Regions from separate parts of the Homo sapiens genome. Here region 1 is linked to region 2. Evidence: fine-mapped expression QTL. A gene starts in region 2. The other region holds a variant in brackets. All regions are shown on one strand. Distances are from middle to middle.

Region 1 (2,908 bases), 670 kb before region 2:
CTAGATGCTGGGAGCAGCTGAGGAAAAGGATGCATAACAGCATCTACAGTTAAGGGCACTGTCATTTGGGGGAGAAAAATTTACATAAATGCAGCTAATACAGAGCAAAAAAGGAAGGACAGTAAAGAATGAACTCTTGAATAAAGTGTACGGAATCATATTATATCTGAAGGAGAAGAGTAGGGAACAGGGGTCACACCCTTACTAGAATGTTGGCTGCTGCAGAGCTGACAATGCTGTGCCATAGCAAAGTGGGAGGAGCATGTGCGTCTCTCCACTTGGGGGCAGGATAAAGATGTGGCACAGTGTGATTTTTAGCAAAGAAGGAGGCAGGCTGATGCTGCCCCGGAGTCCCAGTGTGGTGAAAAGAGGTGGCTCTGTTCTCTTCACGAAGGGAACGAGGGACCCCGACACTGGGATGTGTCTGTGGACACTGCCACAGGCAGGAACTGCACTAGATCTATGGCCTTTCAGGGACTGCTCTGGATTGAGCTCACATGGACAAGAATCAAGATTAGTCTGTGAGCAGGATTAGTAAAAATTCTTAGAAATTTATTGTTCTAAGTTCTGTTTAAATGAACAATCCCATAAATACTGTAGCTGCTCAAGTCTTGAAATGGGGTGAGTTATGTATCAAGTTGAATCATACAAAATTGCTGATTTTTAACCTGCAAAAGCAGCATTTCATATGGTCTAACCCTAATACCAGACAGTAACAGATTACTTGGAAAAGCCCGCTGGGCCCCAGACATTTCCCCGTCTGTCTGCCTAAATCACAGACCTGCCTGTGGACATTGCTCCCTCTCTCTCAGGCCACTTTGCTCCTCAGGAAATACAGCAGCCTCCAGCATACAGTGCTTCCAGGACCCTTCAAATAAAACCCCACGAAGAAACCAGAGCTACTGAAATCCTTAGTACTTCCATGTTCCAAGTAAATCAGATCAAGTTCTCTACACATGTGCTTTGCATGAGTTTTCTAAAAAGATTTCAGTCTATTTAAATACCATCCCTACCAGATAAAACAATTTAATAGGGTAGATCTTTCTTTGCTCAAACACGTTACTTATCTATTCCTTCTTCCAATGCCATCCCTAATATGAAGAAAAAACTGGTAGTGGTTGATAAAGTGTATTTAAGCGTCACGGCAATACATGAGTAAGACGGCAAAGTGTCCCTGCCATCAGCCGGTCCTGGGCCCTGGCCAGGACACAAAGGCATAGAACACCAGCCCAGGGAAGCCATCTCACTTCCCCTGGGGAGACAAACACTGGATGGCTCACGAAGGCTTCAATGTGTTGACACTGTCGTCTCTGCTGCCATAAGGTTGGAGGCCGAAGAGTAATCTAAATAGAAAAAAGAATAAAACCCTGGCCTAGTCGGGTGAGTAGCGTTCTGGGAGAGGCAATGCGTCAAGCCCCAGGCTCCTGGAAGGGAGGGAGGCAGGAAACTGCCATTTTGACTGCCCACTACGTCCTGCCAGACACACTCATGTGCCATGCCTGATCTAATCCCTGCCACGGGCGGGCGGCCAGGGCGCCACCTCATCCGAGCCTGTGCATTGGCCATCATGGCAGC[C/T]GCACCGGGGAGACCAAGCTCCGGGGCTAACTAACTGACGGGAGGCTCCGAGCTCTGAATGCTGCCGGTGGGACCTTGGCAAGGTCCCCATCCTCCCTGGGTCCTGTGGCCTCCTCTGCACAATGGCATCTGAACACAAACCATCTGTTCACATGGGAATACATAATATGTATAATTTCATAAATGTTAGCTCAATAAATGTTGGCATTATTAATTCAAACAGAAGTTCACCTCCTGTAAATGGGGAAATTAAGGAGACTGGCAACCACAAACCACTCTGAACGTCCTGAAGACCGCCTGGTCACTGAGGCACACATGACTCTGCACCCTCTGACATGCCACGTCTCATCTGGCCACAAATCCCCATCAATCCAGAACCTGACCACTTGTCACCACCACACGCCACCATCCAGGCCACGCCATTGTCATTTCGTTCCTGGATTATGGCTGTGGCCTCCTACCTCTTCTGGCCTCTGTACCCAGCAGCAGGAGGCTTTCAGGGATGGTGCCGTCCTCCGTTCAGCCTTCAGATGGCTCCCACCTCACAGGAAAAGCGGAAGTCCTTACTGTGGCTGGCAAGGCCCTGCCCCACTGGGTGCCTGCCCCTGCTGTCACCTCTGTGGTGTGGAGCCCTTCCCACACTTCACACACACGATGTGTGTGTGCTGTGCCCTCTGCCTGGGATGCTCTTCCAAGACCCCTGTCTGGCTGCCTCCCTCACCTCCTTCAGGTCTTTGCTCAAATGCCAGCTTTTCTCAGGAGGCACTGTGATCCAGACCCTTCATTCTCCTTTTCTTGGCTTCATTTTTCTCCTCAGTACTCACCATGCTCTAACTTCCCTGGATTTTCATGATCTAGCTTGCTTGCTGTCAGCCTCTTCCACTGGAATGGAAGTTCCATGCGGGCAGGAACTGTGGTATATCTAGCACCCAGAGAACAGGCCCCATACCTACAGAGTCTCAGAAACCACTCTCGCAGGCTAGCTGGCTGAAGGAACAACACTGCAGTGGTTCCAGTGGATCCTGACTCCGTGGTTCTTATGAATCCCGCAAAGAGTGGTTCTTAATATGGGTCAATGGACCCCATGGGGATCTTCTGGGTGATGATCAAAATTCCAGGGGTCCCTGAACTTGGATGGTAAAAAAGCACATCTTCATTCTCACTATCCTATCCTCTAGCTGAAATGAAACATTTCTTTCCGTTATAAATAGGAACATACCACAGTGATACTACCTGTGACTGTGTCACCAGTAGAAATCAGATATTTTCATGACGCATTATATTGTTACCAGTGTCTCAAAATATTGATTCTGCTCATTACTGCTTCAAAATT
Region 2 (2,908 bases):
ATATTTTTTCTATACTGTGACCTCTGTTTACAAGCCCATTTGGTTGTTCATGATTTTCCCCTTCCTTGGTGTTACCTCCAAATATCTGGAGAAGCTGGGAGAGAAATGGTCATGGCTGCATATCCAAGGAGCCCAACCTAGGAAGCTTCCATCTTTGTCTAGGAGGAAGGTTCGGCCACTGCACCTGGAGCCCGAAGCACCGGACACCAGGCGCGCCGTTCTGGCGCTCTGCAGGGCCTCTCTGGGTGAAGGAAAGCGGGCAGCCTGGGTTCAGCCCACCGGGTCCCCTTTCGAATGCCATTTCCCAGCTGAAAATCCAGCCAGCACAGCCTGGACGCCGAGCCCTCTGGAGCCCTGGTCAGGACGCTTTAATTTTCACCCTCCCGCTCTGGGTCTGAACAACCCCCCCGTCCCCCGCCCCCCACCCCAAGGTGTTGTTTCCTAGGGTCTTCTGGGGACATCCCTACCTGTCGAGGGCCTGCCCTCCTCGGGCTAAAAGTTCAGCCCTTCGACAGAGCCATGGAATAAGAGGCGACTCTCCCTGTGTCCCGCAAGTGGTTTCTCGAGGTACCCCTCTGAGGCTGCAGCCCCCGGAGCAGACCTGGCTCTGCATAGCAGCAAAAGCAACCGCCTACCTGGGCCGGGGCAGGACTGTGCCGCGGCGGCAGGGACAGTGTGAGCGCCGCCGGCCCCCTCACCCGGCGAGGGCCCTGCGCTCACACTTCTTCCAGGGGAAGGAGTGGCCACGCCTGAGCCCCCCTAAACGACCTCTTCAGGAGAAAAGAGTGCCGGCCAGGAGTCCCTCCAGTAACCTCAGTTTAGATCGGGTTTTCGCGCCTCCCCTAGGAATCCGGCTGGAAACCCCGGAGACTCTGCGCCTAGAGTTTTGCGGGCGTCTCTCTGCCTCCCCGCAGCTTCCGGCTCTCGCAGGCTTCATCCACTCCCTCTTCCCCCGGACCTGCCTGAACCCCGCCGAGCACTAGGCAAGGCCGGGCTCTGCGGGCTGGGGAAAAGAAGGGGCTTGGGGTGGCCCAACCCGACCGCCACCTCGGCCCGGCCTGCGGGGAAACCCCACAAAGTCAAGGCGCGGGGCGGGGTCGGGGGGATGGGATCCAGAGAGAGACTCAGAGGGGCGCCCCTTCCCCCCAGGGGTCTCCGAATCCTAGGGACTCTCTAAGCCCCCGTGGCAGAGAAAAGAGGAATTTTTAAAAACAAATCTTCCCTTGCCTGAGGCCATTTTCCAGCCTTCCACGCGCCTTTGCCGGGGAAAGAGTCGATGACTCGCCCTGCTCATCGGCTCAGACCAGAGCTACCCTGAGCCCACACCTCTCCTCCTCTCTGCAAGACATCCCTTCCGCCACCCCCAGTCCCGCCGTCCTCCCCTCTCCAGACCCACTGACCTTGGGAAGGCGCAGACCCACCGCTCGCCAAGCCTCGCCCCGCACTGTGCACGGGAAGAGGGGGCTCCGCGCGCAGCCCAGTCCGGTTAGCTGGTCGGCGTCGGCGGGGCTGCCGAGGTGGCGCAGAGCTCCCCTCCCCCACGCCTTATAATTTAATCACACGCGATATTAAATTATCAAGCTGCTCATTAATCATCACGCGAGTTATTGGGACTGAACACGCCGCCGCGTGTTTTGACAGCCCAGAACCATTCGCGGGGGTCGGGGTGTGTCTGGGTTTGGGGGCTGGGGGATGTCTAGCCACTCTAGAGAAACACTGCGAGCCCCACGCGGGCTGGTGGAGCCTCTTGCCTGGAAAAAGATGTGGAAACGCGCAGGCTGGGCGTCAGAGTTTGGTTGAGGGTCTGTCAAAAGCCCAAACGTAACCCTCCCAGGCCACTTTCCTTAATATTTGGATTTTGATCACGATGATTAAGACAGCCGGTGATGTGTAATCAACAGCATCTTAATTTGCAGTTTTTCAGGAGGGTGAATTTGACCTGACTCTGAGCATCTTCATTGCCCAGTGTGGACGGTGTGAAGTTAATGCGGTTGAAATACAGAGGGAATCAGATCACCGATGTCATTTCAAAGAATAACTTTTCCCTGATTCAAAGGGTCTCTCTTGCCTTTCACATACTACAAATGTGGAGAGAGAGACATAAAGAGTTTTAAAAATTAAATTCTTAATTTGGGGTATTCATTTTTAAAATGATTTACGCGTTTCGCCCTGGAGTGGTTAGAACCTGGTTTTATTTTCTAGGGTTTTATTTTTCCTTTTCTCTATTTCAATTAAAGGAATCTCTTTAAATGAATAAACCAATTAAATGAAACTTCTTATGATTTCATTCCATACAATAGAAGAAACAAATGATCATTAAAAGTTGTCTTAGTGTTACAAAGGAGAGTAATTAATTCTCAGCATTCACACCAGCAAAACGATAAACAAGAGGGAAAACATCCCCCAACTCTGGAAGAGGTGGTGTAGATGTGAATCTGCAAACCAACTTAAAAATATATATACCTAGTTTGAAATTAGTCTTTGGAAGAAATGTAATTCCCAAATTAAGTCTTTTGCCACCTTAGCATAAACCAAGGCTAGTTTTTAGCGGAAGACCAGTTCCTCTGGGCAAGAGCTGTGAATTTCAATAAGTTGGCAAGCCAAGTTTTCTACACAAATCAGAGATTAAATCAAGTTGTTTTCCCTTTTTAAAATATAAAGTATAAACAAATACCAAACTGGGGCATGTTCCAAATCCTCTGCAGCTAAATTGCATTTAACTTTTCCACCAGAAAATGTGATCAATTTAGTAAGCCAATAAGTACATAAATACTACCCCCGCTTATGTTTTATCGCAGAATATCATTGATAATATTAAATGTGTCCAAGACCGCTCATGAGTTATTTTCTCTTCTGTTAATCTGTTGTCTGCATTTTTCTACTCTGTCCACTAACACACAAAGAGATG

Alleles and levels. Alleles are on the strand shown, and positions count from the first base shown. SD is a standard deviation of normalised expression in the study named.
For the expression in spinal cord of the gene that starts at base 1,488 in region 2, C is the high allele of the variant in region 1 and T is the other (large effect, 1.3 SD a copy in GTEx).

Evidence for each region.
Region 1: its variant is fine-mapped to the expression of LINC00237 in spinal cord (GTEx, PIP above 0.99).

What each region holds. Positions count from the first base shown.
Region 1 is chr20:20,435,369-20,438,276 of GRCh38, forward strand. The region is part of intron 37 of RALGAPA2 (Ral GTPase activating protein catalytic subunit alpha 2); the gene reads right to left. Among named protein-coding and RNA genes, the nearest start is that of INSM1, 69 kb to the left of the region's middle. The variant C/T (reference allele first, on the strand shown) is at 1,576.
Region 2 is chr20:21,104,871-21,107,778 of GRCh38, forward strand. It overlaps LINC00237 (long intergenic non-protein coding RNA 237), which reads right to left and starts at 1,488. Exons shown (of 2, transcript NR_190203.1): 1 at 1,401-1,488.